3 separate regions of the Homo sapiens genome follow, and regions 1 and 2 are each linked to region 3. Evidence: fine-mapped expression QTL. A gene starts in region 3. Each other region holds a variant in brackets. All regions are shown on one strand. Distances are from middle to middle.

Evidence for each region.
Region 1: its variant is fine-mapped to the expression of NCS1 in tibial nerve (GTEx, PIP 0.96).
Region 2: its variant is fine-mapped to the expression of NCS1 in fibroblasts (GTEx, PIP above 0.99). The same link has a PIP of 0.9 or more in esophagus muscle and tibial artery.

What each region holds. Positions count from the first base shown.
Region 1 is chr9:130,193,630-130,202,628 of GRCh38, forward strand. NCS1 (neuronal calcium sensor 1) reads left to right here. Exons shown (of 8, transcript NM_014286.4): 2 at 7,329-7,353. Among named protein-coding and RNA genes, the nearest start is that of NCS1, 26 kb to the left of the region's middle. RefSeq lists enhancers at 3,591-4,092, 4,093-4,592. The variant A/C (reference allele first, on the strand shown) is at 4,111.
Region 2 is chr9:130,229,084-130,240,026 of GRCh38, forward strand. It overlaps NCS1 (neuronal calcium sensor 1), which reads left to right. Exons shown (of 8, transcript NM_014286.4): 8 at 3,907-8,220. Among named protein-coding and RNA genes, the nearest start is that of MIR12126, 6.8 kb to the right of the region's middle. RefSeq lists enhancers at 7,869-8,428, 10,586-10,765, 10,846-10,943. The variant G/A (reference allele first, on the strand shown) is at 4,406.
Region 3 is chr9:130,164,228-130,175,036 of GRCh38, forward strand. NCS1 (neuronal calcium sensor 1) reads left to right here and starts at 8,177. Exons shown (of 8, transcript NM_014286.4): 1 at 8,177-8,500. The coding sequence starts at 8,437. RefSeq lists silencers at 2,472-2,675, 8,154-8,243 and enhancers at 7,291-8,079, 9,541-10,451.

The DNA of each region.
Region 1 (8,999 bases), 28 kb after region 3:
TGGGGGAGCTGAACTGCAGGAGGGGCCAGCTGGGAGGAGACTGGGAGTGAGGGGTGCAGGGAGCAGAGCCGCCCCCGGAAAGCGTGTGAGCTGGGCGCTTGGAGGAGCCCTGGTGCTGGGAGATTGAGCACAGGAGAGGCGTGGGCCTGGGAGGAGCTTCTGAGGCCAGCTGCGCTTCTGGAAGGAGGACAGTCAGTGATCAAAGGTGTCAGGACCGAGGGGACTGTCTGATTTAGTAAGATGGGTCACTCGTGGCCAGGCCCAAAGGCCCCGCCTTCTATTCTTGTGCTGCTCAAACCCAAAGGCCCTCTTGCTGGTGCGGTTTTCCTTCAGCTGTGGTGGAGGGCTGGGGCCAGGTACAGAGACACTCCGGCAGCCCTCAACCCTGGAGATGGATCCAGGGCCAGGTCCGCCCCAGGAGGGATGGCGGAAGAGGCTGGATTGGCTGGCCGTCTGCCGTCCATGCCTCTAGCTGAAGCCAGCGCCGGGAGGGGGCTGCCAGCCCCTGCCTTTTGCTCCCACCATGTTTGAGCTGAGCTTCAATCAGGAGAGAGGTGTTTTGCTTTAGGGAAATCAAAATCAGACTTAACATCCTCCTGGGCTCCTGGGACTGGCTCTCGTGTTCATTCCTGGCAGACAAGGGCTGTGTGGAAGGGAGGAGGAGCTGGAGTAGAGGAGCTGGGGACCTCAGGAGCGCTGCCGGGGTGGAAAGGAGGCTGTGGGCACCGCGGGTGCTTCCTGGCTGTGGGGTACGAGCCTGGAGTCTGTGGGCGTGGGGGTGCGGCGAAGGCTAGGACCCACTCTCTGCTCTGAGACTGCAGCTGCCCTCCCCTTCTGCAGCTCTGGCTCTCTGGGGGTCAGTGAAGGGGAGTAGAGTGGATGCCCAGCCCCCCCTCTCCCAGGGCCCTGTGTCGGCTCTGATTTCTCCATCCACTCCTCAACAACCTTGACAATGGCTCTGCCTGGTAGGAGTTTATACCCCATCCTACAGGTGAGGACTTGGAGGTTCAGAGGGGTTAAGAAACTTGTTTGGAATCACCCAGGCTTCAAGTGGCCCTGACAGGATGGCACCCCAGAACTTTCCCCTGTCTGGCCCCATGGAGAGCATGGCCCATTGCCAGTTTTAAATCCTGGTTTTGGTACGAGCCTGGGCCTGCAGGCCTGGAGGCAGAGTGTGATGGAGAGAGTTCGTTTTAAAAATTGGCCAAAGCCAGATGAAATTGTGAAGGTCAATGCATGAGAAACACGTTTGAGGATGTGTTCTAAACCCAGCCCAGTGGCTGGATGACAAAGGAGGAATCAGCAGGTGTTTTTCTCTGTCCCCTGTGTGCAGGGTGCTGAGCCAGGCTCTGAGGGTGATGCTAGGATGGGCCAGGAGAAGTGTCCTGGCCTCTGCAGGCTTAGTGTCCAGCTAGGAAAATGAGGGGAAGAAGTGCTTCTGTCTCGCACTTGCTGGGTGCTGGACACTGGGCCGAGCACCAGTCCCTCCTCTTCCTGCTAGATGCCTGAGTCCCATTTTACAGATGAGCAAACCAAGGCTCAGAGATGCGGGGTCACTCATCCAAGACCACAGATCAGAGGGAGCCCTGGCCTGAAGTGCTTGCTGGGCTGGCCAAGGCCCTCTCTGGACCGCTGTACTTCACCACTGCTCCCCCAAGCCCAGCCTGTGCCCCCTTGGTCAGACCCCCGTTGGCCCTCTGTCGTGGAACCCATGGGAAGACAGACCTCATGTGAAGGGGGCTTCCCAAGGGGCCAAGGCAGGGTCGGGAGGGCCTCCTAGAAGAGGGCCATCCCAGCTGGGCTTTGTTTTTTTTTTTTTTGAGACAGTCTCTGTCACCCAGGCTGGAGTACAGTGGTGATCTCAGCTCACTACAACCTCTGCCTCCTGGGTTCCAGCAATTCTCATGCTTCAGCCTCCGTGGTAGCTGGGATTATAGGCACGCGCCACCACACCCGGCTAATTTTTGTATTTTTAGTAGAGACAGGGTTTCACCATGTTGGCCAGGCTGGTCTCGAACTCCTGGCCTCGAGTAATCCGCCCACCTTGCCCTCCCAAAGTGTTGGGATTACGGGCATGAGCCACCGCGCTCGGGCGCAGCTAGGCTTTGAAAGATGGATGGGGTTTCCCTGGGTGGAACGGGTGAGGTGAGGAAGTGTTCCTGGCAGAGCACAAAGGCCTGGAGGCTGGAACGGTCAGAGGAACTCCAGTGGGGTCAGGATGCGGGCCAGTGACCCAGGGAACAAGCTGTGCAAGGACTGCCTGCGTTCCTACCCTGCCCTGAACCCTGAGCCCTGAACCCAGAGCCCAGAGCCCAGACCCACCGAGGGAGGCAGAGGCGGAGGCCCTGTTAATTTCACATGCAGTTGGAGGCTCTGGGAGGAGGGGGAAAATGGGCCGGGCTGGGAACCAGAGCCTGGGAAGGTCACTCTGGCATCTGGGTGGAGGCTGAGGCAAAGGGAAGCTGAACCCCCAAATTGTCCCCCATCTCCCTCCCTCCCAGTGCCTGTCTTGGCGGGAACTGCTGGGGGCACAGGACCTTGGGCAGGACCCCCCAGCCCTCCTGGCATTGTGCAGTGGGGAGGGGAGGCAGGCACAGTGGTTATGGGGTGAAGAGGACAAACATTTCCCTCAACTTTTTATTTTGAAAAATCAAGAGGAACATTGATGTGGTGGTGCAGGGATGCCTCTGTGTCCTCGAGTCCCCGGCTCTGCTGCATCTGTCCCCTCTCTTTCTACATACGTGAGTGTGTATATTTCTAAACCATGTCACAAGAGGCTGCAGGCGTCTTGACCCTCACCCCTGAATAGCTCAGAGCATATCTCCAAAGCTGGGCGCGGCGTCTCACGCCTGTAACCCCAGCACTTTGGGAGGCCGAGGCGGATGGAACACTTGAGGTCAGGAGTTCGGGACCAGCCTGGCCAGCATGGTGAAACCCCGTCTCTACCAAAAATACGAAAATTAGCCAGGCGTGGTAGCAGGTGCCTGTAATCTTGGCTACTTGGGAGGCTGAGGCAGGAGAATTGCTTGAACCCTGGAGGCGGAGGTTGCAGTGAGCCCAGATCAACCATTGCACTCTAGCCCCAGCCTGGGTGACAGAGGGAGACTCCTCAAAAAAAAAGAAAAAGAAAAAGGGCATTAGCCTCAGTGCTGTTACCACCCCCACCTCATCCCCATGGCAGCACCTAATTACCAGTCCACAGTGCAGTGGCTTCCCAGCTGGCCCAGCGACAGCCATGATAACAGTTTTTTCCTGCTGATCTGGACCCGATCCAGGCATCTTGAGTTACATTTGGTTGCCTCGTCTGTTTAGACTCTTTTTTTCTGGAACAATCCTCCAACTTGCTTTGCCTTTCCTGGCCCTGACTTGAAGTGTCCTGGTCAGTGGTCTTGTAGAATGTCCCACAGCCCGGATTTGTCTGATTATGTCCTTGTGGTTAGACTCAGGTTAATTATTTTTGGCGGGAGACCTTCACGGATAACGTGCCCTTCCACTGCATCAAATTAAGGGGTACATGATATTGGGCTATTTCACGATCGAAGGCAGGGCAGGTTTGATCAAGGACGGTGGCTTTTTTTTGAATTTGTTATATTTTTTATTGTGTATTAGAAAAGATATGACCAGCACAGTCACTGGTAACTTTATGGATATTATTGCTTAGGCTGAAGCTAGATTAAGCAGGTAAGTAAAAGCAAATTGAGATGATTTCAAGAAAAATCCTGAGTGAATCACTGGACACTGGACAGAGAAAGATCTCGAAGGTGATCTTGGAAGAGTTGAGCTTCTGGGAACCCAGACACAATGGTTGAGAACACAGGCCTTGGTGATGGGCAAACCCAGGCTGAGGATGGGCACGTTCCTCTGGTCGCCTCTCCACCCCGGCTCAGCTTCCTCTCCAGGTTGGGGTGGTAGCTGCTCAGCAGGGGGCTGGGGTTTGGACAAAGGACAGCCTGACCCGTGCCAGAGCTCCCTGGCTGGCGGGAGGGCTGGGGGCAGGTGGCCAGGACCCCAGAGATGTGGGTCCTGCCTGCTGTCCTTCAAGACCCTCTGTGGCTGGGCGTGGTGGCTCACGCCTGTAATCTCAGCACTTTGGGAGGCCAAGGCAGACGT[A/C]TCACTTGAGATGAGGAGCTTGAGACCAGCCTGGCCAACATGTGAAACCCTGTCTCTACCTAAAAATACAAAAATTAGCTGGCCGTGGTGGTGTATGCCTGTAGTTCCAGCTACTTGGGAGGCTGAGGCACACGAGGATCACTTGAACCCGGGAGGTGGAGGTTGCAGTGAGCCAAGATAGTGCCACTGCACTCCAGCCTGGGTGACAGAGCAAGACTTTGTCTCCAGAAAAAAAAAAAAAAAAAGGCCCTCCAAGGCCCCAGGCAGTGAAGCAGTTAGAATTGCTGGGCCCTGGCTGGGTGCCAGGGGATACCTGCCAGCCTCAACTGTTTCCTAAAGGTCAATTTGCTGCTTAAAGCATGGGCAGGACTTATCTCCCCCACCCTAGCTCCGGTTCCCTGGGGCTCGGCTGCCTGCTGATCACCCAGGGTTCTGTGGGGGGACCTTTCCAATGGGGGGAGCCCTAGTCATATGCCCTTCTCCCACCTCCCTGCTGCATCCTTGGAGTGTAGTTGGGGGTGAGGAAGGACGCAGAGACTGAGGCAGAGCCCTGGGGGAAGGCTGCTGGGAGACATGGGTGGGGGGTGTCAAGGGAGAGTGGGACTTCGGAGCTGGGGGTCCAGGGAAGCCCCGCTCTGGCACTGTGAGGCCCGCCTGAGACAGTGGCCATGCCACCCAGTTCCTGCTGTTTGTGTCGAATGCTGCCACCCCTTGCCAAGGTCATACAAGGTCATGCAGACTCAAGGAGTTGTATCCAATTGGGCCTCCATCCTGATCTCTAGGGGCACCGTCCCAGCTCTGCTGTTTCCTGGCAAAGGGACCTCAGGTGATCTCAGACAAATAAGCAGACCCATTGGAACTTCAATTCCTCATTGGGAAAACGGGGTCACACCTCCCTGTGGGGTTTTTGTGAAGCTGAGGAGCGGCAAGCACTTCAGTTTTCCCAACAATCCCATTTCACAGATGAGAAAACTGAGGCTCAGTCAGGGGAAGCAATTTGCCCAAGGACACACAGTGCCCTGTGGGGCCGGATTTGAACCCAGGCGGTCTGGTCTGGCTTTAGCACCTGTGGCCCTGAGCTCCTGGCGGTACTGTGATGGGTCGCCTGTGTCTCCAGGTTTGGGCTTTCAGCATCCGCCCCACAGCCCCAGCTGCCATCACAGCTGCCATCACAGGCAGCCAGCCTGGATCAGACCAAGGACACCTTCCCTCTCCACCCCCATGCCGAATCCTGAACCCGTTCCTGCCCCATACCCTTTGCCAAAACTTTATCTCAGAAAATTGCTTTCTTTGACTCCAGGCCCGGTGTTTCTGGGTAACTGGCATCTCCCGCTGTTGCCTTCTCTTTCTCTCTTTCTCTTTTTTTTTTTTTGAGACACAGCCTCACTCTGTCACCCAGGCTGGAGTGCAATGGTGTGATCTTGGCTCACTGCAACCTCCGCCTCCCGGGTTCAAGCGATTCTCCTGCCTCAGCCTCTAGAGTAGCTGGGACTACAGGAGCGTGCCACCATGCCTGGCTAATTTTTTGTATTTTTAGTAGAGATGGGGTTTCACCGCTTTAACCAGGATGGTCTCGATCTCCTGACCTTGTGATCTGCCTGCCTCGGCCTCCCAAAGTGCTGGGATTACAGGCGTGAGCCACCGTGCCTGACCTGCCTCCTCTCTTTTTATCTGAGGCCTGCTTGCAGACAGGTCTCTTCCTCCATCTCTGATTTGGGCTTGTGGGAGGAGAGTGCTGACCAGCACGGGGATGGAGGCATCTAGCCTGCCCAGGAATCTGGCTGCCTGGTTCTGAGCCACAGACCTAAGGTCAGGCCCTTGCCTTGCCACTTCCTGATCTCTTTGTGCCTCAGTTTCCACATTTGGAGCTGGGGCAGAGTTGTGCCATCCTCCCTCCATGCTGTCATAAGAGCCGTTGAGCTAAAGCACAGAGGCCCGCCCTGGGCGCAGATTCGGGCTTGCGGCAGGCTCTTGGTATTTGGCAGCTGTTGCGAGCTTGCTTTGAGTGGTTTTTGAAAAGTGGCTTCCTCAAGTCTGGTCAGGCACAAACAATTCAGAGACACCTCTTTGGGCTTCCTTCCCACTTCCCTGGGAATAGATTCTAGTTCCTTTACTCATCTGACCTCCACCTGACACCCCTTTCCTGTCTGTTCATGTGTTCATTCATTCATTCATTCATTCATTCATTCCACAAACCAGTATTGAGCACATTTGAGGGCCCTACGCCGTACCCTTTGCCAAAACTTTCTCTTGGAAAATTCCATTCTTTGACGCCAGGCCTGGCCTTTCCAGGTGTCTGACATCCCCAGGGATCCAGTAGCTTCCATGCCTTTATGAGTGAGTCCCCACAACAGGTCTGTGTGGCAGGTGCTGATAATATGATGCCCACTTTATGGATGAGGCGCCCAAGGCAGGGAGTGCAGGAGGAGCCGTCCCGCGCTCACACAGGCAGGGAGCAAGGGTGGCCTTGGTGGTGGTTTGGTGTTCTTGTTCGGTGACTTTAGAGAGAACATTGATTTGGTTCCAACTTGAAACGATTCTGTACTTTTCAGAAAAAGCATTTTTGTTTGTTTCATGGCTCAGTAAAGAATGGGTATGTGGGCTTGGCTCCAGGCTCAGCCGCTCTCTGTAGCCTCTTTCAGCTTTTGCTTCACGGCTCTGTTCATGTCTTGCCAGTGAAAGAGCCCGGGCTGACCACAGAGAGGGGCTGCAGGGACAGGCTGACAGGGAGGGTGGTCCACCCTTCTGCTGAGAGCTGCCCCTTTTCAGCCTAGCTCCCCCCACCCCCCCACATAGGTGGGGCAGCCGAGTGCCTGGGGAAGCCAGGGCCTTCCCTGACATCCCGTCCCCAGGGATTGAGAGATGGCAACGAGTAAGTCTTAGATGTTGGCCTGGGAGCAAGGGCTGTGGGAGAAGCAAACCCTTGAGTGCCACAGGGCGTTCCTGGGGGCTCTCCCAGCAGCGGCAGTGGCAGTGGCAGGTAGCACTTGGGCACCGGGAAGGGGTGGGGCCAGTGTCCCCTGCTGGGGTGGTGGGTACAGAGCCCCTGGCTAGGACTGCTCACCAAGGGAGCATTTTCTCATCCAGAGCAGGCCGTTGCCCGGGGACATGGCCGTGGGGAGGGGAGGGCTGGAGGGGAGGCCCCCCAGCGAATGTCTGCCCATCTCCCGGGACACCTTCCCTGAGCTAAAAGCCTACTTTTCTGCTTTCTCTTGCAGTTACCGAGAAGGAGGTCCAGCAGTGGTGAGTAGCTGCTTTTTCTCAAACCGTAGAGGGGCTGCGGCTGTGGGCTTTGTGGGCTGTGGGCTGATGGGGACAGCAGTCCAGCTGCTCAGGATGGGGGCATGTGGAGGGGCCCCTGAGCGTGGGGTCCAGACAGCCTTTGTTCAGTGGCCTTTGTCCTTGCGGGACTGACGTGGTTTCAGTGGAACTGGGTTGGGGGTGGCGCTGGGGTGTTTGTTGGTGGTCCTTGCTTTGAGTTGCATCTTTAGGGACCACCAAGGCCTGAAGGGTTGATTCCAGGCCCTGTTCACCAAAGAGAAGGGTTTGGATAAGAAAGTCCTTCTATGACCTTGAGAGGTCCTTTCCCCTCGCTGGGGCTCCGTCACCCCTTCTATAGAATGATCGATTCGATTGGATCAGGGATGGCAAATGGGTTTGCTCTTGGATGCCAGCTCTATTCAATCTGTCGTAGCTGCCTGGAGGGCCGTGATAAGGATTCCGAGGCCGTACGTCATGGAGCAAATGGAAAAGCGGCAGTGAGGGATAAGTGGGGCCTGTAATGGATGAGCAGTGCCAGGGCTGGGCCTGGGGGAGGAGGGCGGTGTATTGTCCGTCTTTGTGGAATGTGGAGCAGACAGGAGGCTCACCATGTAAGGTGGCTGAGCTGTAGGGGTGGCACGTAGGGACATGAGGCAATGAGCTTGGAGATTTTCCAGTCAAGTCTGGCAGGGCCGGGCACCCCCCAGGAGCCTCCAGGGCCACTCCCTACACCTCCCTGCCTCAAGTCCAAGCTGCAGATGGGGCAGGGCTATGCTGGCCCGCCTGGCTCTGCTGAGCCCTTGCTGGGAGGTGCCCCATCCTGGGATTGAGTTTCCGCCCTCACTTTCCACTTCTGCACTTCCCCAGGTGAGTGCCCTAGAAACACCCTCCTTCTAGATCTTCACCCATGTGGCTCTGCTTCCTGGAATGCCCGCCTTCCTTCCTGGGCCATCTGAACTCTGCCCCTCCCAAGGCTCAGCCCAAGTCGCCTCCACCATGAAACCTCCCTAGATTCCCCATCCGTACATGTTCTCCCTGCCTTCACACACGCCAGCCAGAGGGGTCTTTGCTGAACAAAAACCTGACCATGCCAGGCGTCTGCCACCCTCCCCAGACCTCAGGGTGAAGTCCTCACCCTTGACATGGTTATGTGCTTACGAGGCCTGGTTCAGTCTGGCCCTGTTGACCCCTGCAGTCTGGCGTCCTCTGCCTGTTGGCCTTTGCCCTTTACCCTCTGGCCAGCCTGAACTGCTGTTTGTTCCTTGAACTCACCTTTGTCTCCGGGGCTTCCTGATGTTTGCCCAGGCTGCTCCCTCTGCCTGCTGGGCTGTTACCTCCTCGCCCCTCCCCCCCACCCCCTGAAACCCCCCAGGCCTCTGTCAGAGTTCCCACTGCCCTGTGCCTCCCTGGGACAGCCGATGACTTACTGGGCAGCAGGTAAGCATTTTGTCCCTCTCTGCATCCTGTCGGCACTCTGAGGGCTGGCTAGCTTGGCCTTGTCCATGTTGTGTCCCTAGGGCCTGGCCACAGTGGGTGCTTGGCCCCCAACAGGCATCGTCCTTGGTGCTTCAAATCCATGTTTTTTTTTTTTTTTTGAGTTGGAGTCTCTCGCTCTGCCACCCAGGCTA
Region 2 (10,943 bases), 65 kb after region 3:
TTTATTTTAAAAAAAACCCCTTATGTATGACTCAGATATAATCACAGTGAACATTTTAGTGTCCAGAGTGATTTTAAAAGAATTGAACACTTACAAAACTTAACACTCAGTAAACTGAGTCACACAGAAATTATATAATTAAAACCAATTTATAAAGGAACTATCACTGTTATTAATATTTCTTTTTTTTTTTTTTTCCAAGATGGAGTCTCCCAGGCTGGAGTGCAGTGGCGTGATCTTAGCTCACTGCAACCTCTGCCTCCTGGGTTCAGACAATTCTCATGCCTCAGCCTCCCAAGTAGCTGGGATTACAGGTGCTTGCCACCACGCCCGGCTAATTTTTGTACTTTTAGTAGAGATGGGGTTTCAGCATGTTGGACAGGCTGGTCTCGAACTCCTGACCTTGTGATCCACCCACCTCAGCCTCTCAAAGTGCTGGGATTACAGGTGTGGGCCATCGCGCCTGGCCAATATTTCCATCATAGAAATGTTTGACGTGTACCTTGACATGTCCCATGGTGAATGCTGATCCGTTGTCTAATTTTTCACAGTCCTCTTTTGCAAATCACCATGTCATATTATTTCCATGACAAGCTTGTCAAAGTGACAAGAGCCCTCGCATGATATGATCCCCCTTTCTATTAGCTCTGCTGGGAAATGGCCTTCTTTCTTCTATAGGGCTGTTCCTTGTGCCTACGCGGTAGTGATTATATCCAATTTGTGTTCTATCATTTTAATGATTTATTTGCCTCCTCAGGTTCCTGATAGCTCATAATTCCTAGATCACTTGCAGTGATGTAAGTCATTGACTTATTCAGAAACTGAGATGAGGCTTATTTTCCACATCATTAAATGTTGAGCCATCATTTTTCATAGCTGCATAATGCTCCATCACATGGCTGGGCCATAATTTAACCAGTTCCACAGTGTTGGACACTCAGGTTGTTGGGAATTTGGGGAAGGGATTAAAAAGTTATCTATTATGGGCCAGGCGCACTGGCTCATGCCAGTAACCCCAGCACTTTGGGAGGCTGAGGCAAGTGGATCACTTGAGGTTAGGAGTTCAAGACCAGCCTGGGCAACATGGTGAAACCCCGTCTCTACAAAAAATACAAAAATCAGCCAGGTGTGGTGGCGGGCACCTGTAATCCCAGCTATTTGGGAGGCCGAGGCAGGAGAATTGCTTGAACCTGGGAGGCGGAGGTTGCAGTGAGCCAAAACCACTCCACTGCACTCCAGCCTGGGTGACAGAGTGAGACTCTGTCTGAAAAACAAAACAAAACAAATTATCTGTTATGGAAACATTCATACACAGTGGCAGAGAGAATAGTGTAATGCTGAGTGGGCGCCTGTGGTCACTCACACCTATCATCCCAGTGCTTTGGGAGGCCGAAGTGGGAGGACTGCTTTAGGCCAGAAGTTTGAGTCCAGCCTAGGCAACATAGAGAGACTCTGTCTCTACAAAAAATATGAAAATTAGCCAGGTGTGGTGGCACATGCCTGTAGTCCCAGCTACTCAGGAAGCTGAGGCAGGAGGATCCCTTGAGCCCAGGAGTTAAAGGCTACAGTGAACTAGGATTGTACCACTACACTCCTGCCTAGGTGACAGTGTAAGACTCTGTCTCTTTAAAAAAAAAAAAAAGTGTAATGTTTTGTACTCATCACTCAGCTTCCGAATCCCCAGTTCCCTGCCAATCTTGTACCATCTGTGCCCTCCCCCCCCACCCCCACTCTTGTGATTTTGAAGCAAATTCAAGACATCATCATACTTAATCCATTTCAAAATGTATTTCTAAAAGATAAAGATTCTTTGAAAAATTCATAAAGCAAAAGCAATCAATAATTCCTTAATATCCTCTGATCTCTAGTTGCTATTCTAGTTTCCTGTTATCTTACTCTTTTTTTTTTAACTTTGTTTACTGAAATCAGAATCAGAATAAAGTCTACCCATTGTAATAGGTTGATAGGTCTCTTAAATTTATTTAGACCATGTGCAGTGGCTGACGCCTGTAATCCCAGCACTTTGGGAGGTCGAGCTGTGTGGATCACTTGAGCCAAAGAGTTCAAGACCAGCCTGGGCAACATGGTGAAACCCTGTCTCTACCAAAAATACAAAAATTAGCTGGGTGTGGTGGCGGGTGCCTGTAGTCCCACCTACTTAGGGGTGCTGAGGCAGGAGGATTGCTTGAACCAGGGAGGGTGAGGCTGCAGTAAGCTGAGATTGCACCACCGCACTCCAGCCTGGGTGATAAAGTGAGATTTTATCTCAAAAAAAAAAAACTTTAATTTTGTTTATTTTTTATGTATTTATTTTTTTGAGGTGGAGTCTCACTCTTTTTGCCCAGGCTGGAGTGCAATGACGTGATCTTGGCTCACTGCAACCTCTGCCTCCTGGATTCAAGCGATTCTCCTGCCTCAGTCTCCTGAGTAGCTGGGATTACAGGCACACACCACCACGCCCAGCTAATTTTTGTATTTTTAGTAGAGATGGGGTTTCACCATGTTGGCCAGGCTAGTCTCGAACTCTTGAACTCAGGTGATCCGCGTACCTTGGCTTCCTAAAGGGTTGGGATTACAGACATGAGCCACCTCACCTGGCCTGAGTATGGATTTTTGGTTCTTTGGGTATATACCTAGGAGTGGAGTTGCTGGGTCATATGGTTAACTCTATGTTTAACTTTTTGAGGAACCACCAAACTGATCTCCAAACTAGTGACAGCATTTTGCATTCCCACCAGCAAAGGACAGAGGTTCCAGTTTCCCACATCCTTGCCAACGCTTGTTATTTTCCATGAAAAAAAAAAAAAAGGTAGCCATCCTAGTGGGTGTGAAGTGGTTGCCTCACTGTGGTTTTTTGTTGTTGTTGTGGTTTTTGTTTTTTGAGACAGGGTCCCACTCTGTCTCCCAGGCTGGAGTGCAGTGATGCAATCTCGGCTCACTGCAACCTCTGCCTCCCAGGTTCAAGTCATTCTCCTGTCTGAGCCTCCCAAGCAGCTGGAATTATAGGTGTGCGCAGCCACGTCCGGCTAATTTTTGTATTTTTGGTAGAGACCGGGTTTCACTGTGTTGGCCAAGCTGGTCTTGAACTCCTGGCCTCAAGCGATCCTCCTGCCTTGGCCTCCCAAAGTGCTAGATTTACAGGTTTGACCCACCACTCCTGGCCCTCCCTGTGGCTTTGATGTGTGTTTCCCTAATGACTAGGGATGTTGGGCATCTTTTCATGTGTTTATCGACTGTTCTATGTGTTGTTTTTAATGGTTTGTAAACTGTTTTATCCTGTGGGTGTGTCCTAATGTATCCCACCACTCCTCTGATACTGGACACTTAGATTGTTTTCTCTGCTTCCATTTTTGTTTTCTGTTTTCTGCTATTACAGATGGTGCAGTGGTAAACATTTATTTATTAAGGATAAATATAGGCTGGGCACGGTGGCTCACGCCTGTAATCCCAGCACTTTGGGAGGCCGAGGCGGGTCTATCATGAGGTCAGGAGTTCGAGACCAGCCTGGCCAAGATGGTGAAACCCTGTCTCTACTAAAAAATGCAAAAAGAAATTAGCCAGGCATGGTGGCGGGCGCCTGTAATCCCAGCTACTTGGGAGGCTGAGGCAGGAGAATCGCTTGAACCCAAGAGGTGGAGGTTGCAGTGAGCCGAGATTATGCCACTGCACTGCAGCCCAGGTGACAGAGCAAGACTCCAACTCAAAAAAAAGCAAACAAAAAAAAACCAAAAAACCCAAAGGGTGCCTCAGAGGTTATGCACATTTTTAGGACTTCTGACATAGAATGCCAGCTTGCCATCTATCGACCTTCCTGCCAGCTCTCTGTGCCTATCCTCCGTGGCCAGACCTTAACCCCTATCCGCTGTGGCTGGATCTTAACCCATCTTGCCTCCTTGTGTCTTCCAGATGCCTGGGAACCACTCACCTCCTTCTGTGCCATGAGGCCACCTCAGCCCTGACACCAACCCCGTGCGTCCACCCAGCCTTCTTCCGCATCCACACACAGCCGGCTGCCCTTGACCCGGGAGGCCCCGGCTCTCCTCTCCCCTGTCCTGCACCCATCCCCCGCCTGAAGCCACCGGCTCCAATTGCCAGCAACCTCTGCTTGTCCGGAAAACGACAACACGAAATGGAAAAGGCTACAGCCCTCTGCATAAACCAAGGACTTGGCTGCCTCGCAGGCAGCCTCCGTTCCTCCCGCTCTCTTGCGCGTGTGCTTTTGTTTTTTATTTTGAACAGACGTTTTAAAAGAAAAAAAAACAACTACCTTCTGTCCTAGAAGACACAGACTGACAGATGGGGTGAAGGCCTGGGGACCTCAGAGAACTCTGCCTTGCCCTCGTCCCTCGTCCTTCGGCAGCCGGAGAGGCTGTGGGTGGGCCGAGGGTGTCTAGGGGTTCTGCCT[G/A]GTCAACGTTATTTGTCGTCCCATCTTTTGGCAGCAAAACCACCTGCGTGGCTAGGATGATTAATTATGAGGATGATGATTTTTTTTGTGATAACAGTATTGTGCTTTTTGTGGGGAAAGTGAGGTTTTTTTTTATATACATATATAATTGATATCTTTAATTTATTGGTTGTTAACTGTTGCTGCTGCCTGGTGTGTCCTCAGCTCCCAGGGCTGCGGGCCCACCGTTTACATGTGCACGCCCTGACCCACCTGCCCACGCCGACTTGGGAGGATGGTGGCCTGCAGCGGCCAAGAAGCCAAAAAAAATTTTTTTTTTTTCAGATACTGTGCTTGATTTTTGGAGAGGGGAGAGGTGGAAATTCCTAAATGGCTAATGCACTGTTCCCTCCAGCCCGAATGCCTCCTGCCAAACCCCTTTTCCCTGCTGCCTCTGTCCCCGCATCCTTGTTCTCCCCTGGGTCCGTAACATTTTTTCCGAGGATGAACAGGGGACATCTTTAGGTTTCTCAACTCTTGCTTTGGTGTTTGCCGCAGCATGGAAAACAGGGCGCCTAAGGCTGGGAGCTGGAAGAAGGGGCATTGGGTACCCAGGCAGAGTCAGGAGAGGTGGTCTTTGAAGTAAGTTAGCAGAAATCAAGGGGACCCCCGCCTCCTTGGGCTGGGGAGGGGATTTCAAGATAGTTCATGACTCTCTCCCGCTCTGCCTTCCCTCCTTCCTATCTGCTTTTTCCAGTAAACTGCATGGTGTCCTTCCCTGGCCTTCTCTTGGCTCAAAGGCTGGGAGGGAGGGAAGGAGAGAAGAGTTCCAGGCAATCCCATCAATATAGTCCCTACACCTGGGGCTGCGGCCCACATGTCTTCACGGAGGCTTCCAGCGGTGCCTGCCACTGAGGCAGGTGCGGCCCCAGGACCATCACCAGGAATGCGAGGCCACCCTGGACCAGAGGTAGGAGCCCAAGGTCCGGCCCTTGCTCTTTGATTGTGGGCAGCCTCCTGCCCTCTCTGGGTCTCAGTTGCCCCATCTGCAGAGCGAGGAGGCCCGGGCTGGTTGGTCTTGAAGGCCCTTTTCCATGCCGACATCATGTCACTCTAGGCCTGGGGTTCAGTTTCCTGTGGCTGGTGATGCTGTGGTTAAGTTTGCTTGACCCCAGCAGCCCGAGGGACTGTCTGAGTCACAGCACAGCCCCTATTGCGTGGCTGCTGGTGTGTGGGGTCAGTTCCAGCAGATGAATGTGTCATGTGGCACACCTTGTCCCTTCCCGCAGCATTTCCTGGTTCCCCCCAGACCCTTGAGCGCTCTTTGGGACCCAGAAGGAGTCCTTGCACAGGGAAGGCTTGAGGTGAGAAGCCGCTTCCCAGACTGTCAGGGCCAGGCCTGGGTCTAGAATTCTTGCTGCTGCTTTGCAGAGTCAACAGCCCATCAGCCCATGTTTTAGAGGGGACACTTTGGTCCTCGGTTCCCACCCTCAGCAAGCAGGCCTCCAGCCCGAGGAAGGCCTCTGCCGTAGTGACGTTGCCGTGTGGGGCTGCGTGGCTGTTCCCCTTGGCTGGAGCATTCAGCCAACCCCAGCGTCCCCCCTGAGGCGTTCATTGGCAGCCCCCTAGGACTGCACGCTGGCCCCACGGTAACCCCCCCTCCCCCACCAACATCCTGCAGGGATGGGGTCAGTGGTTCCACCTTCACAGGCCACTTTGAAGGGTGGATTCTTTGAGGCCCCTGCCAGTCGGCTCCCTGCTCAGCTGCTGGCCCGGGCGACCTGGGACTCAGCACCAACGGCTGAAGTTTCTCAGCTGGGCTCTGACCTGGGGTCTGGGGCAGGGAACGAACATGGTGGCTTTGGGCTGAGAGGATGAGGGAGGTCTTTCCCAGGTCAAATTACTTTCCTTTGGCCTCTGCCTGAGGCTCGATTTGCCTCTCTGGTCCAATGGGACTGACACTGTTGTACAACCTGACCTGTGGCTGAGGGTGTCTGGGCTTAAGCATGTGGACCCCTTCGGTGTGTCCGGCCTTCCTCCATCGTCCTGCCCTTTGGCCTTTTGGTTTGAAGCCACAGGTGTGGCTTCTGGCCTTAGCAGATGGTATGCTTGCGGACCGCAGCCCAGCATGCCGGTGGGCCCACAGCCCGAGCCAGCCCAGAGCTGCCGGAAGGGCCGCCCTTCCCGGCCCTGGCGGGGTGCTGGACACTGGCCATTTTCACTAGAGTTTGCCTGGCAGGGACCGATCTCTGCCCCCTCCTCTCCCCAGGCCTCTGGCTGCAGTGATGCCGCAGAATCCTGAGCCAGGTGCCTCCTGAGCAGCCCGTGCGCCTCTCCACAGCGGCGTTTGCCACCCAATGCGGCTCGCTTCAGATGCTCTGATGCAGAGGGCACGCCCATAGTCCCTCTGCAGAGCCTCGCACTGGGGCCAGGGCAGGCACCAGCCCCAGGCGGCCAGTCGGCCACGGCCTGTCCTCTTCCTCGTAGCGTCTGCTCCTCACTTTGTGTTGATGGTGACTTAGGAGAATGTTCCGATTTTCCATGATCTAAGCAGGCCACGTTTAAAATAACATCAAGGCAAGCGTACGTGTCACCCTCTGTACTGACATCTCTTCCCCTGAAATGCTTTTCAGTTTGACAGCCCGTTTCCTAGACAAGTGCACCTGGGGTTTCAGGAACTTTGTGTTTTTTCGGAGGGGGTTGGTGGGGAGGTCGGGATGCCTGGGATCCCTTCCTGGAGAGGCAGGCTGTCTCTGGAAAAAGCCTCCATTGCCCACCCGCCAGGCGGAAAGTCACCCTGTTCCCAGCGCGGTTTCAGCATTTAATTTTAAGGGAGCTAAGGAAGCGCGGCGCGCCCCCTGGTGGTGGTAAGCCGCCAACGCACCTGGGGGCTGCAACCCCACCGGACGGGTGGTCCGGAGGGAGGCTGGAGCGGGGAGGCGAGGAGGGGGCTGTGAGTCCTCAGAGGCCCTGGGCCACCACATTTCTGGCAGCGTTTCCCAGACACCCCTCTGCTAGGCCATCCCTGGATAGCAAGTGAATTAACTTAAGGGCACTGTGATGGGAAGCCTTGCCCCCCTCTTTTTTTTTTTTTTTTAATATCTGCGGAATAAACCCAATGGTTAATTTTTGAATGAATAAAAGGCTTTTGTTGAATAAACAGCTGGTCCCATCTTCTGTCTTGGCATCTTAGCATCCAGGCTCAGGCTCTGCCCCTTCTCCAGGATGGGGTAGCCCCGAGTCGCCCTCCCCAGTCTGCACATTCCCTGTTGTCCCTGTTCCTGCAGTGGCTCCCGGCCCCAGGGAGGCCCACCTCACTCCCAGCCTGACTCGGTGGCTGGCTTCCTTCAGGACTTTGCGCAAGTCAGTTCTGCTCATTGGGTCTCAATTTCCCCATCCCTTGGATGGGAGCAAGAGTCTCTGCTGGGCCTGCCTCGCAGGGGCCTGGTGAGACCCAAATGTGAGTGTCATCATCAAAGCCCCTCACAGAAGTGGAGGACGGTGCCCAAGAGTAGCGGTTTGGACTGCTGCTGCCTCCCACCCGGAGCCTGCCACTTGGGGGAGAAATTGGTATAATGCTTGCAAAAACAAACAAACAAAAGGCAATGTCTTCTGGTTGTGGTTATTTCCTTTCCTGCTTGCCTCCCCAGCCCCCTTTGAGTCTCTTTTTGGGGTGCCGTCCTGTCTGAACCTGCCGGTGTGTGTCTCTGGGGCCAGGGTCAGGGCGAGGCCCAGGGGTGGACAGGGGCCGTGTAGCATGCCCCAGCCTCCCCAAGCTCCTGCTGTATGTCGTCCATGTCACGCCAATTAAACACGCTTCCTGGACTTGTCCTCGCCTCCCTGTGTGGGCCTGTTGCTTTGTCTGTTTACATTCTTCTCCGTTTCGTTTTAGGTTTCTTCCCTTTGTGACACCCTTTCTCTGGCTTTGGGTGTTGTCTTCCCAGTTTCCTGAAGAGAAAGAATGTGTAGGCCGGGTGCAGTGGCTCATGCCTATAATCCCAGCACTTTGGGAGGCCGAGTTGGGCGGATCACCTGAGGTCTGGAGTTCGAGACCAGCCTGGCCAACATGGTGAAACCCCGTCTCTACTAAAATACAAAAATTAGCTGGGTGTGGTGGCAGGCGCCTGTAATCCCACCTACATGGGAGCCTGAGGCAGGAGAATCACTTGAACCCGGGAGGCGGCGATTGGAGTGAGCTGAGACCACACCATGGCACTCCAGCCTGGGTGACAAGAGCGAGACTCCATCTCAAAAAAAAAAAAAAAAAAAAGAGAGAGAAAGAATGTGCAAAGTGAGAACCTTGAGTATACTTTTAAACCAGAAAAATCTGCAGGAGTGTTTCTGCGAGGCCTAGAGTTGAGTGGTGTGAGGCCCCGCCCACTGCCTCACCCACGACATCCCCTGACCTGCCTGTTTCATCTGGAGAGGGCGGCTGCTGCTTTAAAAATGTCTGAAAACCATTGGCCTAGATCAGTGGCTCTCAAAGTCAAGTGTGTCTCAGAATCACCTGGATTGGAGGCTGCTTCAAACCCAGCTTGCCAGCCCAGCCGCCGAGTTTCTGATTAGGAGGGTCTGGGCAGGGGCCTGGGAATCTGAGTTCCTAACAAGTTCCTGGGCTGCGCTGCTGCTGCGGGTCTGTGAATCACACTTTGAGGACCCCTGGGAGGTGTGTGCGCTGCAGCATGTCCGGTTGGGTCCCTACCTCCATTGGCTCAGGGATTCAGGCAAATGATTCATTCACCTCATCTGACTTTTGCACCTGTGATGGGCCAGGCGCAGGGGGCCTAGAGATTGGTTGCTGACCACATGGAGGGTTGCGTCGGGAGGGAAGGTGGGGAGATGAGTAGCTCTTGTGCAAGCTCCCAGCAGGCACCCCGAGAGGTGGCAGTCTGTGTGGCTGCCCTCCCCCGAGTCACCCTTGGCCTGGAGCCTGGGATAGAGGAGAGCCCTCCTCTTCCCCCTCTGGTCAAGTAACCCCGTGTTTGCTCAGTATGCATGGGCCCTGCCATGTTGGGGAGAGGGGGATCAGAGGAGGTGGTGGTTTTCACTTTCGTAGCTTGTTAAAGGAACACGAATTCAGAGAGCAACAAAAGCCAGCGCGGACTCAGGAACATAACTGTCAGTTAGAATTCATTGCTCTTGGCCAAAAGCTCTTGAAAGACGCATGAAGCGTGTAGATTGATAAGATCAAGCAGCCCATGTTAGAATGAACCACCACCTGCAAACACAGGCCACGTTTCAGACATGTTTCAGAGTGAAAGGAATCATCAGATCGCCACCACCTTCCAGGCAAAGCTGAAGGCCCAATGTGACTTCCGCTTTGGGGTTGAAGCAACCGTTGAGAAGTGGATGCAGCGATGTCACCCTCTGTGGCCACGCTGGGCATCCAGCATTGTGCGTTGCTCTGGCGGGTCCTAGAGTGAAGATGCCAGAACTCCCCAGACCCTCAAGAGGGTTCCAAAGGCAGCATGGAAAGGCAGTGTGGGACGGTGATTGGGGCCACAGGTTGTGGAATCTGACCTGGTTCCCAGCCAGGCTCTACCACTTGACGCTGGGCATGTGTTCTGACAGACAGGGTTTTCTGGTAAAAAAGTGGACCCTCGGCCGGGCGCGGTGGCTCACGCCTGTAATCCCAGCACTTTGGGAGGCCGAGTCAGGCGGATCATGAGGTCAGAAGATTGAGACCATCCTGGCTAACATGGTGAAAGCCCGTCTCTACTAAAACTACAAAAAATTAGCCAGGCGTGGTGGCAGGTGCCTGTGGGAGGCTGAGGCAGGAGAATGCCGTGAACCCGGGAGGCGGAGCTTGCAGTGAGCCGAGATCGCGCCACTGAACTCCAGCCTGGCAACAGAGCGAGACTCCGAGACTCCGTCTCAAAACAAACAGACAAAAACCCCATGGACCCTCAATGAGAGGCAGGCGATGGCTCGACAGCCCCTGCCCCACAACCTCGCCAGAGGTGGAATGTTGCAATGAAGGCAGGTATTAGATCAAATTCTGCCAGAAGTCCAGATATTCACTGTCAAGTAAGTACAAAGACAGGCAGGCACCTGTACCTGTCCATCCAGGGGGTGGGGGCCCCAGGACCCCAGGAGCCCTGCCCCTGAGCACAGTCCTGAAGCACCAGGCTGCTTGCTGCTCTTCCCTTGTGGTGCACAGTGCTGAGCTCTGAAAATCTTTGTAGCCAAGCATGTATCTTCACCACATTACACTTCTATGAAAAGGGACTTCTAACATCCTTTGTGTGGATAAAATCTGTGGTGTAGGTTTTAATAAAAGTACATATTTAAAATGCTAATATGACACCCTCTGGAGGGCTGATTCCTGACTAGACTGTTTCACACACTTGGGGACTGTCCCTGAGGCAGAGATTGGAGGTAATTTACATACCCACACAATGTGCTGTTTCCACCGAAGCACTGAAAGTAAATCTGTGCACGGGCGCCTGTCTTTGGAAATACCAAGCTCTGGTTCAGAAGGCCGTTGTGAGGGCAGCTGGGGCAATGTTTCCAGCAGAGGGTGAGCTTGAACGGGGGTGAGCTGTTGGTGGAGGAAGCT
Region 3 (10,809 bases):
TGGTTTGTTAGAGGAACAGAGATGAGGCAGGCAGGGCCTCATAAGCCTTGTAGAGGCTTTCCCCTGAGAGCAAAGAGAAGCTTCGCTGGGGGGATGGATGCGGAAGATTAGCAATAGAAAGTCTTACTCTGGCTGTGGTATGGGGATTTGAGAAGGAGCAAGAAAGATGCTGCAGAAATTGCTTTGATGGCTTGGAGAGAGAGGGTGGTGGCGGGATTCCACTGATTGTGGTGGAGGTGCAGAAAACTGTCCAGCCACCCAGCAGGCGGAGCTTGCAGTGAGCCAAGATCGTGCCACTGCACTCCAGCCTGGGCGACAGAGTGAGACGCCGTCTCAAAAGAAAAAAAAAAAAGAAAAGAAAGAAAGAAAAAAGAAAACTGTCCAGCCCTGAGGGATTTTTTTTTTTTTTTTTTTGAGATGGAGTTTCTACCTTGTTGCCCAGGCTAGAGTGCAATGGCGCGATCTCGGCTCCCCGCAACCTCTGCCTCCCTGGTTCAAGCGATTCTCCTGCCTCAGCCTCCCGAGTAGCTGGGATTACAGGCATGCGCCACCACGCACGGCTAATTTTGTATTTTTAGTAGAGATGGGGTTTCTCCATGTTGGTCAGGCTGGTCTCAAACTCCTGACCTCAGGTGATCCACCTGCCTCGGCCTCCCAAAGTGCTGGGATTACAGGCGTGAGTCACCGCGCCCGGCCGAGGGCTCTTTAAGAATTGAAACCAACGGACAAGGTGTGGTTGATTGCATACAGAGGATGGGATTCTGCAGAGCAGGAAGGGCCAGGAATGTTTCAGACTCTGGCTGGAGCCTTTGGTTGTCAGCGGACCATTTGTAAAGGAACAAGGATTCTTTTTGTGGGGAGTGGACCGCGGTGAGTTATGTTTAGGGCCTGTTGAGTTCGAGATGCTTACGTGACATGAGAATGGATACTCCCGGTAATGCACCTACCTACAGGTCCACAGACTAAGCCCTTGGAAGGGGGATAGGCCAGGGCTGTTCATCTGGCAGAGGAGGAAACCGGGGCTCAAGGATGCAGCAACTGAGCGGAGCATTTGATCCAGAGTTTGCCCAACCTGTGTTTAATATTTTCCCCATGGACTTCCTGGAAGAGCAACCGAGCAAGCTTCCCTAACCCTAACCCTAACCCTAAACCCAAGCCAAAACCTAACCCTAAGCCTAAGCCAAACCTTAACCCTAAACCTAACCCTAACCCTCACCCTCACCCTCAGAAGAGTGAGCTTATGAAACCGTAGCAGGGACCCTTTTTGCTGAAAGGCAAGGGGGAGGGCTAGAGGCTGGGTTAAAATGCAGATTGCCAAGCTATGCTCCAACCTCAGTGACATTCATCGTGTGTGGAGTGGAAGCTGGGGATCTGGGTCATGGACAGGCCCCCTGGGGGAGTCTTGGTGATTCTAGAAGGCCTCTACTTTGGGGTATTTGTGGATGAGTGAAAAAAATTGACAAAATACTTTTCTTATTCAAAAGAAATGTGTGAGCTGGATGTGGTGGCACACGCCTATAATCCCATCATTTTGGGAGGACAAGGTGGAGGGATTGCTTGAGCCCAGGAGTTCAAGACCAGCCTGGGCAACATAGTGAGACCCCATCTATACAAAAAATTTAAAAAATTAGCTGGGTGTGGTGGTGTGTGCCTGTAGTCCTGCTGCTAGGGAAGCTGAGGCAGGAAGATCACCTGAGCCTGGGAGGTCAAGGCTGCTGTGACCCATGATTGTGCCACTGCACTCCAGCCTCGGTGACAGAGTGAGACCCTGTCTCAAAAACAAACAAAAACCACAAAACAAAAACACAGAAGCAATGTGTTTAATTGTAGAAAACAATCTGTAGAAAATACAGATGAGCCCGGGCGCGGTGGCTCACACCTGTAATCCCAGCACTTTGGGAGGCCAAGGCGGGTGGATCACCTGAGGTCAGGAGTTTGAGACCAGCCTGGCCAACTTGGTGAAATCCCGTCTCTACTAAAAATACAAAAAAATTAGCCAGGCGTGGTGGCGCATGCCTGTAATCCCAGCTACTTGGGAGGCTGAGGCAGGAGAATCACTTGAACCCTGGAGGTGGAGGTTGCAGTGAGATGAGAGCTCACCATTGCACTCCAGCCTGGGCAACAGAGCGAGACTCCATCTCAAAGAAAAAATAAATAAAATAAAATAAAATAAAATAAAGTAAAATAAAATACAGATGAGATTCTGAAATTAGTGGTGATGGTTACACAATATAGCAAATATACTAAAATGGCTGAATGTGTGCTAATTTAAAATGATGAAATTTATGCGAATTATATCACAAGAAAAAAATGCAAGGAAAAATGCAGATGAGAGAAAAAATAAAAGTGACTCATAATCTACCTGTACTGACAACTGATAGGATTCCCTGGAAGCCTGTCCTTCAGACAGCTTCCTACATGGGTGCAGAGATTTATTTTCATTATTCTATACACAACGGTTTATAACCTGGGTTTTAAAAATCATTTAATTTGACTTATTTATTTATTTATTTATTTTGATACGGAGTCTCACTCTGTTGCCCCGGCTGGAGTGCAGTGGTGCAATCTTGGCTTACTGCAACCTCTGCCTTCCGGCTTCAAGCGATTCTCATGTCTCAGCCTCCCAAGTAGCTGGGACTACAGGCAGTGCACCAACATGCCCAGCTAATTTTTGTATTTTTAGTCGAGACAGGGTTTCACCATGTTGACCAGGCTGGTCTCGAACTCCTGACCTCAGGTGATCTGCGCAACTCAGCCTCTCAAAGTGCTGGGATTACAGGCGTGAGTCACCACGCCCGGCCTGGTTTTGTTTTTTCTGAACATAGACCTCAACATCCTCCTTGGGTGTTTCACAGACATCTCAGATCCATTGCTGAGATCATCACCCCCTCTCTGAACCTGGTCCTCGTCTGGTGACCCCATTTTGAGAAATGCATCCATCCCTCAGGGGCTCCTGGACACCACCAGGGGGCCACTCTGACGCCTCTGTCTCCTGTAGGGCTGCTCTTCCCAACCCAGAGATCCACGGTCATGCCTTCCTCTCTTGTCCCTCCAACCCACATCTAATCAATGGCCACTCAATTTCCCAAGTCCTCAATGGCATCTCTGCCTTCACCCTGCCTGCTCCAATCTGCACAGCAGCCAGAAGGATCCCTTAACCTGTGAATTGGCCATGACACCCCAACTGGAAGATGGGCTGCACGTTTTTCGTTTGTTTGGTTGTTTTTCTCTTTTTTTGAGACGGAGTTTCACTCTTGTCGCCCAGGCTGGAGTGCAGTGGCGCGATCTTGGCTCACTGCAACCTCTACCTCCCAGGTTCAAGCACTTCTCCTGCCTCAGCCTCCTGAGTAGCTGGGACTACAGGTGTGCGCCACCACGCCCGGCTAATTTTTGTATTTTTAGTAAAGATGGGGTTTCAGCATGTTGGCCAAGCTGTTCTCAAACTCCTGACCTCAGGTGATCTGCCAGCCTCGGCCTCCCAAAGTGCTGGGATTACAGGTATGAGCCACTGCGCTCAGCCTGGGTTGCACGTTTTTTTCACTTAAACATCAAAATCCTGTAGTGGAAAGACCTGGAACCTCTGCTTCTTGGATTGTGACCAGGGCATCAGAGAGCAGATCTGAGTCCTTCATGTGGTGGCTCAGGCTCAGCATTTTAAGCTGATGTGGGCAGGGACCTTTTCAGCTAAAAACCAGGTCAGGAAGAGGGATGGCTGGTCCCAAGGCCCAGCACTTTCCCACATGCCGTCCCCACATCACGGGGGTCCAAAACACTCCCCCCACCCTTCCCCAAGCAGTTCCCATGCTTCTCCCTCCTTCCTAAAACACATTCTTCCCTGGCTTCCAGCACTGCCTCCTGGTGGTCTTCCTACCTCCCCGTCAGCACCCCTGCTGTCTCCCTGGCCTGACCTTCTCAGCCTACACTCCCTCCCTCGGTGACCTCATCCTGTCTCAAGACTTTAAAGGGCATGTCTGCCAGGATGGCTCCCAGTGCATACCTGCAGCCTGGACCTGTCCCTGAACTCCAGACGCCTGTGCCACCTGCTTTCTCCCGTCACCACTTGGACATCTGGTAAGCATTTCACACCTCACCTGTCTGCAGTAAGATTCCAGCTCTTCCTGTCCAAACCTGTCCACTCCCCATCTTAGCAAATAGAAACCCCACTCTTCCATAAGCTCAGCTCAGAAAGCCCGGCCTTGTCCTTGAGTCCCCTCTCTCCGTCTCATACCTTCCAGCCCCCAAATGTCTCTCCTGCCTTCCAGCCCCCAAATGTCTCTCCTGCCTTCCAGCCCCAAATGTCTCTCCTGCCTCTAAGCATACTCCATCCACTCCTGCTTTCCCCTGAAGCCCCTGCCCAGGCTGACCCCCGGGCCCCAGGAAGTCTTCAGATGGGGATGGACTTGCTGGCCTGGAGGAGCTCATTCTGCAGAGGAGGTAGGATGGGCCTCAGCTGGAGGGATCTGGTGTAGACTTGGGAGCAGAATGTCTCCCAACCTTGAAGACCAACTCAGAGGAGACAGCAGTGAGGGAATCCTGCTCTCACTACCCTCAAAATGTCACCGAGTCTAGCCAGTTCTGTGTCCTCCAAGGCCACACTACACGTGGCCACCACCACCTCCTGGCTGATGATACAGTGACCTCTGGCAGTTCCCCATTCTTACCCATCTGTGCCTGGAGTCAGTTCTCCCTGCAGCAGCAGCTGAAGGGGCCGGCTAAGCACATCAGATCCCTTGAGTCGGGAGTCTGACCTTGCCTCCCCACTCTGCACCTCGCCCTTTAAAGCCCACCTTACTGTACCCCTGCAAGGCCACACACAAGGCTGTACGTGGGCCAGCTGGGCTCCACCTGGGCTCTGCCACGGGGCCTGGGCGATGCTCCCCCTCTGCTCTCAGTGAGGCTCCTTCTCTAGCCAACACCACACACCTCCGGCCCTCAGCCCTTCCCATTTTCCTTCCCGCCTCATTTTTCTTCTTTCACCTGTGAGATACATTCTACTCATGCAGCGTATTTATGGTTTCTTTTTTCTTTTCTTTTCCTTCCTTCCTTCCTTCCTTCCTTCCTTCCTTCCTTCCTTCCTTCCTTCTTTCCTTCTTTCTTTCTTTCTTTCAGACAAAGTCTTGCTCTGTCACTCAGGCTGGAATGCAGTGGTGCGATCTCAGCTCACCACAACCTCTGCCTCCCAGGTTCAAGTGATTCTCCTGTCTCAGCCTCCCAAGTAGCTGGGACTACAGGCGTGCACCACCATGCCCGGCTAATTTTTGTATTTTTAGTAGAGACGGGGTTTCATTATGTTGGCCAGGCTGGTCTTGAACTCCTGACCTCGTGATCCGCCCGCCTTGGCCTCCCAAAGTGCTGGGATTACAGGCATGAGCCACTGCGCCCCCGTGTTTCTGGTTTCTATGCTGCACTTATGCATGTTGTTTATTGTTTATAGCACTCTCCCCTCACGAAAGTGTAAGGTCCCTGATGGCAGGGATCTGGTCTATGTCCCCAGGGCACATAGTAGGTGCTTAGTAAACATGTCCCGAATGATGGGATGAATCTGTGAAGTCCCTGAGTTCCTTGGCAGGTGTTCCCATGTATGTTCCCCCACCCTCTCCATTCCTTGCATGGTGTTTGTTGCCAGTGTGATTTTGTGATCGCTGTGCAGCAGGTCGGGTCAGATCCGTGAGCTCCCATGTTGGTCTCAGTGCCCAGCACGGCACCTGGCACAGGGGCAGTGAGCAAGAAATACTCACAGGATGAGTACCTGGGTTTCTTGTGTGTGTGTGTGAATGCATGTGAGTGTGTGAGTGTGTGTGTGTGTGTGTTGAGACAGGGTCTCATCACCTAGGCTGGAGTACAGTGGTGCCAACAGGGCTTACTTCAGCCTCTACCTCCTAGGCTCAAACAATCCTCCTGCCTCAGCCTCCCGAGTAGCTGAGACTACAGGCATGTGCCACCATGCCCAGTTAATTTTTTTTTGTATTTTTTGTAGGAATGGGGTTTCACCATGTTGCCCAGGCTGGTCTTGAACTCCTGAGCTCGAGCCATCCACCTGCCTTGTCCTCCCAAAGTGCTGTGATTATAGGCATGAGCCACCATGCCTGGCCTGCCTTCCCTCCCTCCCTCCCTTCCTTCCCTCCTTCCTTCCTTCCTTTCTCTTTCTTTTTTTCTCTTCTCTTTTCATGTGTGTGTGTTTGTGTGTGTGTGTGTGTGTGAGAGAGAGAGAGAGAGAGAGAGTCAGGGTCTTTCTCTGTCACCCAGGCTGGAATGCAGTGGCACAATGACGGCTCACTGCAGCCTCGCCCTGCTGGGTTCAAGTGATCCTTCCACTTCAGCCACCCGAGTAACGGGGAGTTAGGCATGTGTCACCAAGCCCAGCTAACTTTTAAAAATTTTTGTAGAGATGAGGTCTCCCCTGTCAGGCTGGTCTTGAACTCCTAAGCTCAAGTAATCCTTCCACCTCAGCCTCTCAAAGTGCTGGGATTACCAGCATGAGCCACTGCACCCAGCCTGAGCACCTGGGTTTCTAAAGGGCTTTAACTACTACTGCTGTCATCCAGCCAGGCCCTGGTTCCCGTGCTGGCTCTCCCTCCTCCCAGGCAGGATGCTCAGCACAGTCTGGTCAACTGTTAGCCCCCCACTGTGGGCCCCTCACTGCTGTCCACTCTGAGTTGGTCCTCAAGGTTGGGACATTCTGCTCCCAGGTCTACACCAGATCCCTCCAACTGGGCCCACCTCCTCTGCAGAATGAGCTCCCCAAGCCAGCAAGTCCATCCCCATCTGAAGACTTCCTGGGGCCTGGGGCTCAGCCTGGGCAGGGGCTTCAGGGGAAAGCAGGAGTGGATGGAGTATGCTTAGAGGCAGGAGAGATATTTGGGAGCTGGAAGGCACTCGGCCCTGCTCAGGGTTCCTCTGAGCTTTCTGGACCCTCCGAGGTTAGAACACTGTGGAAAGAAGGGAGAAAGAGACCCCACTCCTGCCTCATCCCTGCTAGCCCCGGGGAGGGCTGCCTCATCCTCCCCGCTCTCTCCCCTACCCCAGGGCCCCAGCACCGGGTGTCATTCTTTCCTCCGTCCTTCGCTCATTCACAGAGATTTGCTGGGTAACACCTCAGGCGGCCTTCTGGGTTATGGAGATGCCTCTGCCCTCTGGGAGGGTGTTCTCCCATGGAAGAGACAAACAGGATGCAGAAAACATAGGTGACGTTTGTGATGGATGTGAAGGAGAGAAACTAAAGCCGAAAAGGATAGGAGAGTTCTCAAGATATGATGATATGTTGGATGAGGTGGACCGGGAAGGCCATGCTGGACCTACCACCTGAACCACACCCCCCTACGCGAATCCACTGGCCTCTGTCCATTCAGGTGGAGCCTGTCACCCCAGCCTCGGCTCAGAGAAACAGCTCTGAGCAGCTCTGACCTGTCACTCCAGCAGCTCTGACCCATCACTCTCTGCTGAAGTCCTTTCATGGGCGCTGGTGGGCAGGGGCCCAGCTCCTCGGCGAGGGGCCTCTCCTGGCCTGCCCCGTGGGCCCTGCCCTTCTCCCAGGTCCCCTGTGCCTGCAGCCGTGCGCAAGCCCGCAAGCCGGGGAACTCTCCCTCGGGCATGCAGGCCTCCCCGCCTCTCCAGGTTGCCTGGGCCAGAACGCTTCTCCATCCACCTCCCTTCCTGACCCTGGGTTTGGAGGTCTCCTGCCCCCAGGCCGAGAGTAGGTGCTCCCACCGCTACCTGCCGCATCCCGCACAGCCCCCTGCCCGCCCTGCGAGGGCTGGGGCACTCCTGTCCCGTGGGCCGCCGTGTCCCCGGCACCCCATGAATCCGTGTCGAATGAATGAATGTCTCCGGGCCGGGACCTGGCCTCATTCACATCCGATCTTCCGGGCCCTCCCCGCCGCGGCGGGGGCCGGAGCGCCAGGGCTGGATTCGGGGAGGGGGTGGCGGGGGTGGCTGCCCCGCCCTGGGGCCGCGTTGAGCCGAGGGGACGCCCCTCCGGCTGGCTGGCGAGGCCGGGGTCCAGCTGGCGGAGGCCGCGGCCAGGCGGGTGCGGGGCGGGAGGTGGCGCCGGGCGCTGAGTGGCGGCTCCGGGTCCACCCCTGGCGCGCGGGTGCGGGCGGGAGGGGGGAGGCGGGAGGCGGGGAGCGCAGGGGCGGCGGCAGGCGGGAGGCAGCAGCGAGCATGTGCCGCGGAGCCCAGTAACCAGGGACGACCGCGGCCACACCGCGCCGGCGCCGGCGCCCAGCCCAGGCAGCCCCGCGCCGCGGCGCCCGGACCGCCCGGGCCTGCCCAGCGGCCGCCCCACGCCCCGGGCGCCCCGGCGCCGACAGCCGCGCAGCGCAGCGCGGGCGCCGCAGACAAAGGCGCGGCCCCGGCCCGGCCCGCCCGGCCCAGCCGCTCCTGCTGGGCGCCCCAACCGGGTCCGGCCCGGGGGGGCGGGGGCCGCGGCCGCCGAGGATGGGGAAATCCAACAGCAAGTTGAAGCCCGAAGTTGTGGAGGAGCTGACCAGGAAGACCTACTGTGAGTGCTCCCAGCCCCCAGCCCGCGCCCCGCGGTCACCCCCACACCCACCGCCCCCGCCCCCGCCCCCCGGACCCGCGCGCTACCCGCTCCGCGCTGCCGCCTCCGCTCCGTCCTCCCCGCCCGGCCTCCAATGTGGACCCCTCGGAGGTTCCCGGGCCGCGCCCCTGCCCCCCGCCCGGCCCCATTGTTCTGGCACCCCCAGCCCGGGGAGTGCGCGCCGGTCGGCGTGCGCGGCGCCACCCCTAGGTCCGGAGGGGCAGCCCCAGCCCCCTGGCGGCCCCCTCTCCGCAGAGCTGTCCCAACGGGCAGGGGCTGTTGCCAGGGTGGGGCGGTGGTCCCGGGAGGGGGCGCCCGGCTGCGCGGAGCCGACTGGCACGAGCGCGCGGGGCTGGTGATTCATGCATCACGATGCCGCCGCCGCCGCTGCTGCGAGATTGGCCTGTCGCCCCCTCCCTGGCCCCGTTCGTGTGGGGGGGGGGGTGGCGAGACTTGGCACAGCGCTCGTCGTGCGGTGACGGCGGTGAAGGGTCCCCGGCACCCTGTGGGTTGCAGCACTTACAGGCTGGATTCTCCCTGGCCCCATCTCTGTCTGCCACACCGGGAAGTGGGTTTCTACAGCCCGGGTCATCTGGGCCGCGTGTGATCATTAGCTGTCGCGGGCTGCCCGGAGGAGGATGGCCTGTCCTTTCTGGGCGTCTCCAGATCAGCCTCAGTGTGTCTCCCTCCACTTGCCTAACTTCACAACTCTGCAGTCCCCTTGCAGTCCTAGTTTCTCCATACCAGGCTTCCCCCTTCCCTGCAGCCTCTCCGGAGGTGCCCTGGCATACCAGGGGTTAATGGTAATGGGTCCAGACCACCCAGGGGATTGCCAGAGGGAAGGCTTCAGCATCGGGGTCTGGAAGGACCTCTGCCTGGGTGTTTGACTTGGAAGGGGACAGTGGTTCTGGGCTTGGGTTGGAATTCAGAACCCATCCCCGGGCAGCTGCGTGGGCCCAGGCCCTCTGCACCACCCCTGGAGGCAGCAGCTTGACCGCCAGCCCCATGTGTTGATGGAGGCTGGGGAGGCAGCTCCTGGTGGTGCATTGCACAACCTCTGCTCCCCGCTTCCCCCCACTCCATCGGCCTTCTGGGCACGTCTGCAGGTCTGTCCAAGCCCACGCTTCAGCTCCATGCCCCTCACCCCTCATGCTTGGAACAAAGGGGGCTTTCCTGAGCGGGTGCTAGTCTGCTGCGAGGTGCTGGCCCTTCTCCTGTGGAATCCTGCAGCATGGAGCTCACATCCCAAGAGCTGCTACCTGGAAGGGGTGAAGCCCCTGGGCACAGGGGCTGTTCTCACCCTCTCTCCAAGGTGGGCAGGTGGGTGGCCCATTCCAGTCTGGCTGCTGTTTTGTGAGATTCGCTGGGGACTCCTTCAAGCTAAGTCCAGATGTGGCCCACAGCCGCCAGCAGGTGGACTTCCTGGGTCCCTGTGCCGGGGGAGGGTGAGGACACCGTGGGCTCCATCAGGAGTGGTGGGCATGGGCTGCACGGGATGCCTCCATCATGGTGGGACAGGGGAGTGAAGCCAGGTTTCCTGCTCATCGAGCATGTCACGTGCCAAGCTCTTGGCATCATTAGCACCTCGACTCTGCCACAACTGCTCTACCAGGCTGGGTGCTGCTACGATCTCCATTTACAGATGGGGAAACTAAGGCTCAGAGGGGCAAAGTGGCATTCCCATGATCCCACAGCTAGTGACCAGGCAGTGCCAGGACTTGAACTCCGGTCTGTCCTGCTCCAAGGCTAGTGAGAGACTTCAGAGCTCGTGCCAAGAGCTCTTCTGGGCCAGGCACAGTGGCTCACGCCTGTAATCCCAGCACTTTGGGAGGCCGAGGCGGGTGGACCAGCCTGACCAACGTGGAGAAACCCCCATCTCTACTAAAAATACAAAATTAGCTGGGCATGGTGGCACATGCCTGTAATCCCAGCTACTCGGGAGGCTGAGGCAGGAGAATCGCTTGAACCTGGGAGGCGGAGGTTGCGGTGAGGTGAGATTGCTCCAAGAGGGAAACTCTGTCTCCAAAAAAAAAAAAAAAAAGCTCTGCTGGGTGTCTTTTTCTGGCTTTTGCTAGAAGCCCATGATGGTGGATTCTAAATGGGAAGGGCCTGGGGTGATAGTCCTGTCCGGCCCCCTCCTCCGGGCAGATCTGTCAACTTTAAGAGAAGTTGAGTCAACAAAGCTTTGTTAGGAACTGGCCCTTGTGGTGCTGGGCTGGGCTATTTTTAAAGGCCTTTGGAGACGTGGAACAGTTTTGGGCAGAGAGAGA